Linked DNA regions of Homo sapiens: all the other regions are reported to be linked to region 3. Evidence: microRNA targets listed by miRTarBase, many of them from high-throughput screens and not tested one by one. Region 3 holds a microRNA gene; each other region holds the end of a gene's coding sequence.

Region 1 (3,157 bases), not on the chromosome of region 3:
ACTATCAAAAACAGTATTTTCCATCTCCTTTCCGAGCTTTATTTTTCTTCATAACATTCACTATACTTACATAGAATTATATATCACACTTACAAATTATATAAAATGATTTTTGCCTCTCCCCAGTCTTCTACGTTCTCACTTCAGAGTATAAGCTTTGTGGAAGTGAAGATTTTACTTTGTGCCTGGAACAATATCTGGCAAGCATTAAATGCTTACAAATATTTATTGAATGAGAGACAAAATATCCAGACAAAAGATTTTTGTCTTTTATAAAGAAGAATTATACTTTTTATGGTAAAATTGCAGTATTTAGTTGCCCTTAGAGTACTAAAGTTTCTCTCTCTTTTTTTTTGAGTTGAAGTCTGGCTCTTGCCCAGGCTGGAGTGCAGTGGTGCAATCTCGGCTCACTGCAACCTCTGCCTCCCAGGTTCAAGTGATTCTTCTGCCTCAGCCTCCCAAATAGGTGGGACTACAGGAAGGCACCACCATGCCTGGCTTAGTTTCTCTTACTGTTCAGATTCTCTCTTGCTAGAGGCAGCATGGTATAGGGACAAGTATGGTCCTGTGGGTGGGGGGTGGGGTGGGAGTAGGTTGTGGGTAGGGAGAACATTTGGATTTTTACTATTAGCATTGACACTAATTAGTAAGTAATGTCATTTAGGGTGAGTCATTTAACCTCTCATTTCCAGCAGGGAATGTGAGAGTACTTTTATTTTTATCCAAAGAAATGAGATCCATGAAAGCACAAAAACAGTAAAAATAACCCACTACACAGCAAGCCTTTTTCTTTTTTTTTCTTTTTTTTTTTGAGACAGGGCTTCACTCTATCTCCCAGACTGAGTGCGGTGGTGTGGTCAGAGCTCATTGCGACCTTGACCTCCTCGGCTCAGGATGTCCTTCCACCTTAGCCTCCTGAGTAGGTGGGACTACAGGTGCACACAATCCCTGGCTAATTTTTTTGTATTTTTGTAGAGACAGGGTTTCCCCCATGTTGCCCAGGCTGGTCTCGAACCTCTGGGCTCAAGCCATCCGCTTGCTTTGGTCCCTCAAAGTGCTAGGATTATAGGCATGAGCCATCATGCCTGGCAGAGTCTTTTTCCTTCCAAAGTTTGTTGATGGGGACTTTCATAGTGTACAGAATAAAATTATGTCCCATAATCTAATGGATCCTTAAGAGTTTTTTATAGTAAATAAGTTGTTAGTGAATGAGAGGTTTCTTGATCAGAAGAAAATCACTTTCAAAATTCAAGATGGCAATCTTAAAGTCAATTAAATAAATGGGATAGTGATATGTGTTACTAAAATTTTCTTGCTATAAGTGTGCAGGCAAAAATATCTAATGTAAATAAGAAAGACAATTTAAGATTATACTTACTAGTTAAGAATATTTTTGAAAGTAGCACCATTTGTTTTAGAATACAAACAGAATAAGTACTTGGTAATGTCCACAGACTAATGAAAGTGTATTGATTCATATATATTACTTTTTTTTTTTTTTTAAGATGGAGTCTCACTCTGTTGCCCAGGCTGGAGTGCAGTGGCGTGATCTTAGCTCACTGCAACCTCAGCCTCCAGGTTCAAGCGATTCTACTGCTTCAGCCTCCTGAGTAGCTGGGATTACAGGTGCCCGCCAGCACCCCTGGCTAATTTTGGTATTTTTAGCAGAGATGGGGTTTCATCATGTTGGTCAGGCAGGTCATGAACACCTGACCTCAAGTCATCTGCCCACCTTGGCCTCCCAAAGCGCTGGGATTACAGGCGTGAGCCACCGCGCCTGGCCTGATTCATATATATTACTAACTGAAATGCAGTATCACTGCACTTCCCCAATTAGTAAATTCAATACATCCTGTATGTAAAAAAACCCACCAATCCCCACAAAAAACCAATCAAACAAAAACCCCAAAAAATCACCAAACCATACTGTCAAGCGAAATAGTTTTAATTAGTAGGCTGATCATAAATAAATCTACATAAAAGATTTAACAGAATTACAAAGAGTTTTGTGTTCCTTTGTGGACTCAATTCATAATATGCATTAGTCAACCTCATTCTCTAACTGTGACAAAAAGAGTTGTCATCCAACAATGCAGCACAGTTTAAGCAATTCATATGCTATAGTTACATTTTTACATTTTCTTTACAAATGTAACATTTATGTACATTATATATAGATTTTTTTCTATAGTTCATGTACTGAAACTCTATTGTTTTTACAGAGAAAATGTTGAATTCATTTAATGAATAAGAAACATTCCTTGTTAAAAAGTAATTCATATAAACAAATAACACGGTACCAATGCCTTTTGGCATCTCTTGCCAGAGTTCAAGTCCAGAAATGTTATATTAATTATAAGAAAAAAGAATTTATCTAATTTTACATTATGACATATCATTCCACATAGCTACATAAATTTGCCAGCTTGCAATGAACAGAGCACTGTACTGCCATACTACTGGAAATGTGTAGAAACCAATTCAAAATATACTTGGTGAAACAGCATCATCGTTACCATTAATTTGAGTTGAAAAAGATCTGTCAAGTTCTTTCTTCCCCTTTACTTTTTACCAAAGCCTCAGACAGAGTGCTGTGCGTTGCATCTTGTATTAACAAATGCCTTCATTTCAAATTTCTCACGCGCTTCTCTGACAGATTATGCTTTACCTAGGTTATAGATCTTTTTCTTATTCAATTTTATTCTACTTCACTTACAAATCTGCTGCTGAACATGAAGCAAAAATTCATAGTAAGAAAATGCAGCCTCTGTCCGGTCTTCAATCAAATGCTGAAAAAATTCTGCTTTGGCAGGACTCTCATCTCTGGAAGAAAGAAAAGGGCATTTGTCTAAACGTATTTAAAAGCCCTGATTTCACCACTTTGCAATCTAGCTCATAAAATTACACTTGTATCCTGTAAATTTATACAAATAAAATAAAAGTGCATATTTCTAAAAATAGTATATATTTTAAAAATTACTGGGCTGGCAGCTCACACCTGTAATCTCAGCACTTTAAGAGGCTAAGGTGGGAGGACTGCTTGAGCCCAGAAGTTTAAGACCAGCCTGGGCAAGATAGAAAGATCCCCATTGCTTAAAAAAAAAAAAAAAATTTTTAAAATTGGCCGGGCGTGGTGGCTCACGCCTGTAATCCCAGC
Region 2 (3,157 bases), not on the chromosome of region 3:
GGCCTGTCTCCTTTACAGCCTTTTGCTTGGATGGGAAACCTGCTCCGGGCTTTGGCTGGGGACGCCTGCCACGCTGAGGCTTCTCCCAAGTGCCCACAACTCTACCTGGTCAAGGGGCTGTAAGGCCTAGCCAGGCTCCTGGTGGGAGTCGGGCAGCGGGAAGACCCCTTGGAGCAGAAACTGGGTCTCTCCCCTACTCCAAGCCCCGTGCCGGCCTCATGCTGGGCACCCAGAAGCCCAGTCACCCACTCCACCCCTCACCAGGGCCCTGGGGTCAGGCTGGGCCAGCCACACACCTGGAAACAGGATGGACAAGGCCACTACAGCCTGAGGCTCTGTGACCTCAGACAGCCAGGCCCTGGGGGACACCGTGAATGGGAATCTCCCTGCGGGGGGGCGGGGAGTCCAACAGCCAAGGCTTCGTGGAGCAGCCACCAGGAGGAGTCACAGCAGCTGGCGAGGGGGTGCCGGGACCCCAGGACCTTCTCGGGAAGCTCCTGCTGTCACAACCCAGGCTGCAGGCTAAAGTGAGGGAAGAGAGGTGGATGCTAACTTGAGGTATCAGGACTTTCAAAAAAACATCACTTGAGCCGCGCGCAATGGCTCACGCCTGTAATCCCAACTGCTCAGGAGGCTGAGGCAGGAGGATCACTTGAGCCCAGCAGTTCAAGACCAGCCTGGGCAACATAGCAAGACCCCTGTCTCTTAAGGAAAAAAAAAGGCCCTTGTACATGGTCTCCGGTCTCCCGGGATGGGGGTATGCTATCTGCTGGAGGTAGGTGAGGGGTCCAGGCAGAGTGGGGTGCAGGGATGGGCCGTGCAGCTCTGATCCAGTGACCCTGGCCAAGCCGGCACCCCGTGGATGGCCCAGCTCCGCCCTGGCCATCGACTGAGAGGCAGAGGCAGAGCCCTGAGTGAGCCGCCGCGGCCAGTGGGGCTGGGCGGCTTGGAGGGGCAGCACCTTGGTCCGAGCGACCCGGGGTGGCATTCCCCTGCATCTTAAGACCATAAACAGCTACTACGCGCATTCATAAATACACAATTTTATTTGCTATTTCCAGGGGAAACTTAGGCATTAAACTGTAAGCTGATAAAATACGATACCTAAAAAAGTATAAAAGTATAAATATCCCCTTAGAATAAATTTTAGTGAATTAAGTCTTAATATCTTTAAATTAAAAAAACCACAAGCCTATCTACTATGTCAAGGTCAAAAATCAAACAACGCTAAGCGGCCAGCAGCTCCCCAGAGAGGATGCCCAGGAGCCCCAGCGGCCGCCTTCCTCCCAGGCTCTGCTGGGGCTAAGTCTGCCTTCTAGAAAGGCTTTTATAAATTGTTTAAGCCAAACATTTAACAACATACAAGAGACCTTACAAAAAGAAGGAGGTAAGTCCTAATGCTGGAGAATTGGTTAATCAGGTGACTGGCAAAGAGGAGGATGAGGCCTAGGCAGGAAGTCTCCAGAAGCATTGGAAACCAGACAGTGTCAGAGCCTCTGACCTGCAGGCGGGAGGCCGGTGGTCAGTCTGCACAGTACCCCTTGGGAAGCCGGAGTTCCGGAAGCAAAGCGCTTGGAGCCCGCCCTGCACGCCGAGTCCCCAGACTCTGACAGGTCCCCACAGCCAGCTGAGAAAGGTCTGTTTTCAAAGCATGCGGGCAGCGGTTTCTAAAGGAATCCCAGCAGCTCCCACGGCATGTCGGGCAGAGCCCGTGCAGGTCGAGTGAAGTCCCAAACATCCCAGAAAGAGAGGGAAGGCTGCATAGTTATACAAAGAAAATGAGAGAGCGGCGAGAGAGAGGCATTTGTGATGCTCTGTAAACATCCCGAATTTTCACCGTGACGCAGACCTTCAGCTCCAGAAGCCAGTGGACAGGCCTCCAGCCCAACCTCTATGCCAGGCGTGACAAGGCACTGACAGACGCCAGCTCCCCGTGAGCCCGCAGTGGGAGGGGCGAGGCGACACTGCTACCTCGCGCTAACGGATGGAACAGATCAGTCTCCACGCGGCAAGCCCTGTGGGCATTTCCAGAGGAAAAACGCTGGGGAGTCTATCCACACAGAGAAGGGGTACAAAGTTCTCTTGCCTGGAAAATACAAATTGAGAAGCCTTGACTGTCCCGGGCTTGGTCAGGTGGGGTTGGAGCCCGTGTCAGAAGAAGGCCCGGCCTCGGAATGGCGCCGGGAAGCAGTGACGACGCAGAAGCCGCCTTTGTCAGGAGCTCTGCGAGGTCGAGAGAAACCAGCGATCCCGCCTGGGAGGCAGAGCAGACTCCCTGACCGAGACTAGGGCCTGGTGGTCGGACCAGAGGCCACGACGTGCTGGACACTGACGCGGCTGCGGCCGCTTCCTGCCAGTGAAGCCCAGGCTGCTTTTCCAGACTGTGTGTAGCACCAAGAACGCTTCCTTCACACGATCTTCAGGATCGAGCGGGCTGACTGGGAGTGTCTGCCTCAGTCCCACGTGGCACTTGGAAAAAACAGAGCGAGGCCCCCCCAAGAGGCAGCGCCCACCCGGCCGCCGTGCTCCCCCAACTTGGGGACGTCTGGCCTTGGACAGCTGGGCCCGTCTCTCACCACCCACCTCAGAGGCAAAAAAGGATTCACACCCAGATCTCTAGAAAAATGATCAAAAGCAGGTTTCTTCTCACAGCCAAGCTTCCTGGACATGGCAGTTCATTACATCTCGGGAAAACGTAAATCATTTCTTCAGCTGTCAATACTGTGTCCCTCACATCCTTGAGCCTCGTTCTTGCAAAATCTGAAAAACACCAAATGCATAAAATGAGGACTTGGGCTGAGGAGGTGTCCCTGACCAGGCGCCTGCTCCAGAAAACAGAGCCCACAGGCCTGGGGTTAGCTCGGGGAGCCCCGGGAACCCAGCGGCACTGGCCAGGGTCTTGGGGACTCAGCTGGCAGGCCCAGGACCTTCACCGGGGTGTCTGGCACATCTCCAGGCCCCACACAGGGAGCGCTCACTGTGCATGGCAGCCCCTCCCAGACCCACCCAAAGGCGCTGACTCTTGGGCCTCTCAGCCCACTCAGTCCTGGGCCTCAGACATGAAGCGCAACTCGGCCCGCGGGTCCCTCAGCAGTCCAGTCCCCCCTCCCCAATTAAGTCTCTCCCTCTGTTCCTCCATGCCCACTGCAGCCCCCAC
Region 3 (3,000 bases):
ATCTAACTACCAAAATCCTATTGATCCTCCCACTTCATCTATTTGGAGCAAGAAATGGTCAGAATTTCGTTCAAAACTCTATTTGTTTTTTTTGGAGACAGGGTCTCACTGTTGCCCAGGCTGGAGTGTAGTGGCACAATCATGGCTCACTGCAGCCTTCACCTCCCGGGCTCAGGTGATCTTCCCACCTCAGCCTCCCAAGTAGCTGAGACTATAGGCATGTGCCACCATACCTGACTAATTTTTTGTATATTTAGTAGAGACAGGGTCTTGCCATGTTGCCCAGGCTGGTCTCAAACTCCTAAGCTCTAGCAATCCACCCACCTCGGCCTCCCAAAGTGCTGGGATTACAGGCGTGAGCCACTGCGTCCAGCCCTTCAAAATCTTTTTTTTTTTTTTTTTTTTCCTGAGACAGAGTCTTGCTCTGTTGCCCAGGCTGGAGTGCAGTGGCGTGTTCTCAGCTCACTGAAGCCTCCACTTCCTGGGTTCAAGCAATTCTCCTGCCTCAGCCTCCTGAGTAGCTGGGACCACAGGCGAGTGTCACCAAGCCTGGCTAATTTTTGTATTTTGAGTAGAGGCGGGGTTTCGCCGTGTTGGCCAGGTTGGTCTCGAACTCCTGACCTCAGGTGATCCACCCGCCTCGGCCTCCCAAAAATGCTGGGATTACAGGCATGAACCACTGCGCCTGGCCCAAAATTCTTAAAGTATGCTTTCCATTCCCTTGCACACATTCCTGTTCTATTACTAATAAAATGCAATCATTACACAGTTGAAGAATAGCAAAATGAGTTCATGCCCAAAGGTAAAATAATTATATGCTCCAATTAATGAAAGACAAGTCACTTTATAATGACATCTGCCTCACCCTAAACACCATCTGTCCCCTTCCATGTCTCTTTTCTTCCAGTCCAAATTATCCAAGGAACATCTACAACTTTGTCTGATGGAGGCAACACTGCTAAGACTAAGTGTGAATATGCCACACACCAGGGAAAGTAGTAAGTTGTATAGTTATCTTCTAATTGGGGCCTAATATCCCTACCCCACAACAATACAACTTACTACCTCACCCTGGCATGAGCAGAATCCTCTAATAAGGGCAGCAGGCAAAAGGCCATTTTACATGGTGACAGACTCTTTTAAAGATCTTTTGCTAGATTAAGGGTACCAAGGCATCTACCCTACTTCACTGCTTTAAAAAATATTGTGCAGGCTTTGGTACAATCATTTTCCAACTCAAGTGCGAAAGGAGACAGGTGTAGGGAGGCAGAAGAATGTTCTGAGGAAATATGGGTGGGGGAGACATATGATATCACATGAACCAACTGATAGAATCACAAAATGGCTACTGACCATTGTTAAGAAGATCAGAGGGAATAGGAAACATACGGCAGTCATACCACTAAGCCCAGAGAGCTACCTTCATGAACAGCACACTATCCAAGACAATGTTCCTAGACTTTTAGATTCCATGGACCAATAAAATTTAATTAAAAAAAGAACAAAAAGTAGAGACTAATGTAGGGGTTGCCAACTTTTAGTTTAGCCATGTAAGAAAAAACATCCAATCAACATCATTTAATAAAAATATTTTGGTACCACAGAATTAGGAATATGATCTCTAAATACAAAAACAGCCTTTTAAATGGAATAAATTCAGCTTTATGAAAAAGGCATTAAAGCTCCTTGATTTTGTTCGTTTCCACAGAGGACTGGCATTTGAGAACCACTGTCATCAGTTATTCTCATGAAGTGCCACACCATGGTGGTCATCAAAGGACCAGCCACTTCAAAGATGTACATGAACATGCTGTTTCAGAGGACAGAGTTGCAGTCAGGAAATGAACAAGACACATGACCTCATTACCCATGCCAGAACAAAGTAGATAATAACCAGAACAAGAACCTGAACAGAGCCAGTCGGAGAAGAAGTGTACCACCGTGGGAAAGACAGTAGACTGTATAGTTATCTCCAAGATGGGGTATGACCCTAAAACTATACAATCTACTACCTCATCCCACAGAGCACCAGTGTCCATCTTCAGCCTATGTGGGCCAGCTACTCGGAACTATCAGGATAAAGAAGCAACCAATTGATTAGTAAGAAGGGAGAAAGGGAAGGAGAGTTACCTGAGAGATTCTGTTCAGTGGAGTCATTTGACTTAGATGCAGTACACTGCAAAAAGAAGGGATAGACCAATGTGGGACTTTGCAAGCACCTAAGATAGAGGTCAACTGTAATAGTCACCATCCTCCACCCAGACCATCTAGGAGTTCAGTGATCTAATGGAGAATGCTTTGGCCATGTGACCAAAGGAAGGTGATCATTTCACTGTGCAAATATATGACCAATTTCTCTATACATACTCAGGTTCAAGAATTGTTTGGGGCTGAGGGGGAAATAAATATGGAAGGAAAGGATAATAAAAACCCCTTAGGGATGGGCACGATCATGATCATTCTAGCAAGAATTTCTTGGTTTCATCTATGTATTTTTTCCCTTCATGGGGCTTATTTTTTATTTTGTCCACTCTAGTCTTTTCAGTCACAGGCTAGGTTCACTTATTTTTCATCCTATATCAAGTTTGAAACAATGTGTGTATTAGGTAAAAAGTTCTATATAAAGATATTTGTTAGATCAACCTTGTTATTTTAACTGAACACTTCACTACCCTTATTTTTAATCTACCTGATTCCTTAACTGCTGAGTAGGGTATACTAAAGTCTTTCACTCTCAAGTCTTATTTCTTTGTATTTCTATCAGTTTTTCCCCCTTTTATATCAAGTGATACACTGTAATGTATAATTCTATCAACATTTACTCAGACATTTAAAAGATCTCTGTCTGAGGTCCCAGAAGTTTCAGAAAAAAGTAGGTAACTTCCTTCTAAACCAAAATTGTATTAGTGATTTTATACATGTGAGCCCTAGAAAAAATGACATGTGGTGATGGGGTTCAGAGTACAAACATTTTCTCTGATCTGACACCTAGGCTGATCT
Region 4 (3,151 bases), not on the chromosome of region 3:
TAGGCGAGAAGAAAGATTCTTCTGCCTGATAGTTATTTTAATGCTCTAAAAATCCTGCAAATCAGACCTTCCTGTCCCTTGCAGGATAACTGTAAGGCTTTTTAATGTAAGGAGGCTTCTGGAGGAAGTGAAGAGCTATGGAAACAACACACATAGTGTGGAAAAATTTCACATTTTTTTTAAAAAATCTATAAGAAACAACGTAATATGGATAACAGTATAATAGCATTTACAATATTTCACTCTTTGTTCTCTTAATGTCTTATATAGTTATTTAGCATGTCCCCCAAATTGACTTCAGTTGGTATTTCCTGCTTTTTAAAGGTCCCTATGAAGAATTAGGGATGCTCCTTGGTCCAGAGTAGATGCCAAGAATGGAACTCCACAGTCATTGCAGAAAAAACATGATTTGAAATCAGTCACCATTGCAGACAATGCATATTCCCTTAAGCTACTGAGCATGAATGTCCATGACTTGTCCACTCATTGTTGGGTCTCCTGTATTAAGAACTGTGGGGCTTGATGCTGACATTGGCATTCCAGGGTGGGGCGGTCCTCCATGCATCATCACTGTTGGGTGGTGAGGGTGTCCAGGAATGTACGTATGCATGGGGGGCCCATGACGCAGCTGAGCAGGATGGGGGGGCATCTGGGGTTGGGTATAACTTGGCTGTCCCATACTCACACCCATTGGACCACCCCGGGCTACATACTCCCCTGGCATACTTTGCAGCCCTGTAAGAAATTCAAAAGAAAGAAACAAAAAGAAAATGTTATGAAAAAGCAATAGTGTGGTCCTGGCTATGACAATCCTATAAAAGCCAGAGAACCCTGTGATTAAGGGAACATGGTTTTGTAAAGCATTCTTTTGATTCATACAGAAGAAAATAAAATGAGAAACATCATGCTGGAAACTCACATTTTGCCACTATTTTCCTTTCATTGTCACTGTTATCAGGTCCGCCTACTGAGGTCTTATTTATTAAAAAGAATAAAATTGTTATTTGAGGTCTGGTCTGAAGAAGCACTTTTGTCTCCTGAAATATTCTCTATCAAGAATACAAGAATACACTGAGCTGGTCACCAAACATCTCACAGGCAGCTGAACTACACAGGCTCACTAAGGGTGATTACTTAGCAAAACCTGTACTTAAAAAAAGAAAAAAATCAAAACAGTTATCAATGAATTCTTTCCACATGGTTTCTTAGAGCTGGGGAAAAGAAAATCTTCACAAAACACTGTCCACCTTATAATGATTTTGAGAACAATAAGAAAAATTGGACCTAAAACAATACCCCTCCTGCTTTGAGGGGGCCTCTTGTCTTCTGCATGGATTGCTATAGTTGATGGAAACTGACAGGTGTATTGTTTCTGAGAGCTATAAGCTCCATAATCATCAAGGGTGAAAGGCATAACGCTATTGCTAAGTAGGTTCAATTGGCTTTAGTTCTAAGTAATAGTGCACTGTGAATACGATGAACACCTTCGAATAAGGTCTCCAGGCTCTAACAATGAATGGCTGCTTAATCTAGCCTAAAGGAACATTTTTGAACTAATGAAAATTGCTTATAAAATATACTGTACCCACAGCTCTTTAATCAAAAAAGATGATAATTTTTTTTGTAATAACCTAGTAATTTAATTGGTCACGAAGCATAAAATACATCATTTAAATTTAATTGACCCAGAAACTAAGAAACAATATTTAAATTAACTAAGCTAGAGAATTCCATGATGAGGTAATAAGACTGTTGCATTCCCCAGCTCAATGGAATGTTTTCAGAGCTAATTGTTAAACTTATATTTGACTCACACCCAGAGAAGATGACCAGTACGAATTACCCCTGGCCTCAGCAGTGATTTTAAATAGTGCATAAATATAATCAGAGACACAAGCAAGACTCTGAAATAACTGCTTTTAATTTCAAAAACAAAGCAAGAACAGTGCTATTAGGGGTAATTTAGGAAGTGAACAAGAGCCTTGGTGTTCAAAACAGTTTTACTTGTTTGAACTCGAATTGCTGGAGTGTCTTTATAGGAGAGAAAATGCAAGAGTGAGAATCTGGGACAGTTTTCCTAGGCCCACTTCACTAGGCCTGCCACTGATGATTGCATTAATGATCTCTATTTTTGTATACTGAATAAGTCAAATCCATTTGTCACACTGCAAGTGATGGCATACTTAATTTGGATATAGTCAATTAGCCTGGGCTAAGCCCCGCAGCCTGCTGTGCACACCTCTATTTTGTATTCTCCCTTTTCCCATTGCCACACGTAATCCCATTATGATGGACAGACAAAGGAATAAACTAAGAAAAAAAATCAAAGTTTAGTTGACTGGAGCTCAAAATATGCCTTTACTTACCCTAAGTAAAGCTTGTGTTTATTTTACCTAAAAGAAGTCTCTGTTTAGCTTTTCGGTGTCTTGCAGGTTAGTGTAGAAATGTAACTCATGCATCAACTGCGGTTAGACAGATTTATGACACTTTGGGGACATGCTCTTCCCTCTCCTTGCACTGCTGCAGACTGCTTACATTTTGCAAATCAGTCTGTTGCTATGACAACCCACTCCCCCACCTCCTGACTGCTTCTTGTTTTGTCATGTGGTCAGTACTGTACAATAGCAACACACAGGATAAATGTACATCATACACAGTATTTATAAGCTTAAAAGCTTGATCACAACCAAAAAGAAAATGATGGAAGCAAGAAACCAGGAGTTTAATGGAAAGGAATGAACAAGCATGAAGCTATGGGCAAGGAGAACATAAGAAAATGCAAGAGGAAAAATATTCCTAGGACAAAGTGAAAACAAAGACCCCATTTGTACTTACTTCCCCCTTGCTTTGCGATTGGTTAACTAGATGAAGGTTACATGTAGTGCCACTGCCCCTCCATGCCCATATTCATGCCCATTCCACTCATAGGTCCTAGAAGGGAGATAAAAATCCAAGAAGAGGCCAGAAAATGAGCAAAGTCAACAGATAGTGCCAAAAGACCCTTAAAAAAAAAACAGGATCTAGAGGGTTGAGAAATAGTGAGATCTTCAGTGCATAAAGATCCTGGCTTCCCCTCTGCAATATCTTAGATGCACAGATAGCAGACAAGGCAAGGCAGCCAGCTTGAGATAACAGAAAAGGATGAGGCGGA

The links. The annotated mature microRNA hsa-miR-98-5p reads UGAGGUAGUAAGUUGUAUUGUU and lies in region 3 at 1,048-1,069, opposite strand. An mRNA with a match to its seed (bases 2 to 7 or 8) in the 3' UTR can be bound and repressed. Matches are read on the target gene's strand: a 7mer-m8 pairs with bases 2 to 8, a 7mer-A1 pairs with bases 2 to 7 and ends in A, and an 8mer does both.
Region 1: the mRNA of SEC24B is a reported target of hsa-miR-98-5p. The part of its 3' UTR that is shown has no 7-base or 8-base seed match.
Region 2: the mRNA of KCTD5 is a reported target of hsa-miR-98-5p. The part of its 3' UTR that is shown has no 7-base or 8-base seed match.
Region 4: miRTarBase lists MEIS1 as a target of hsa-miR-98-5p. The part of its 3' UTR that is shown has no 7-base or 8-base seed match.

The regions. Positions count from the first base shown.
Region 1 is chr4:109,539,227-109,542,383 of GRCh38, reverse strand. It overlaps SEC24B (SEC24 homolog B, COPII component), which reads right to left. Exons shown (of 24, transcript NM_006323.5): 24 at 1,488-2,823. The coding sequence ends at 2,709. Among named protein-coding and RNA genes, the nearest start is that of MCUB, 19 kb to the left of the region's middle.
Region 2 is chr16:2,706,901-2,710,057 of GRCh38, reverse strand. It overlaps KCTD5 (potassium channel tetramerization domain containing 5), which reads right to left. Exons shown (of 6, transcript NM_018992.4): 6 at 1,028-2,760. The coding sequence ends at 2,731. Among named protein-coding and RNA genes, the nearest start is that of PRSS27, 12 kb to the left of the region's middle.
Region 3 is chrX:53,555,252-53,558,251 of GRCh38, forward strand. MIR98 (microRNA 98) reads right to left here and starts at 1,090; the gene lies at 972-1,090. HUWE1 (HECT, UBA and WWE domain containing E3 ubiquitin protein ligase 1) reads right to left here. Exons shown (of 84, transcript NM_031407.7): 60 at 2,131-2,176. It overlaps MIRLET7F2 (microRNA let-7f-2), which reads right to left and starts at 2,023; the gene lies at 1,941-2,023.
Region 4 is chr2:66,568,830-66,571,980 of GRCh38, reverse strand. MEIS1 (Meis homeobox 1) reads right to left here. Exons shown (of 13, transcript NM_002398.3): 12 at 2,836-2,931; 13 at 1-735. The coding sequence ends at 2,873. Among named protein-coding and RNA genes, the nearest start is that of LINC01798, 3.6 kb to the left of the region's middle. RefSeq lists enhancers at 1-1,028, 1,007-3,087.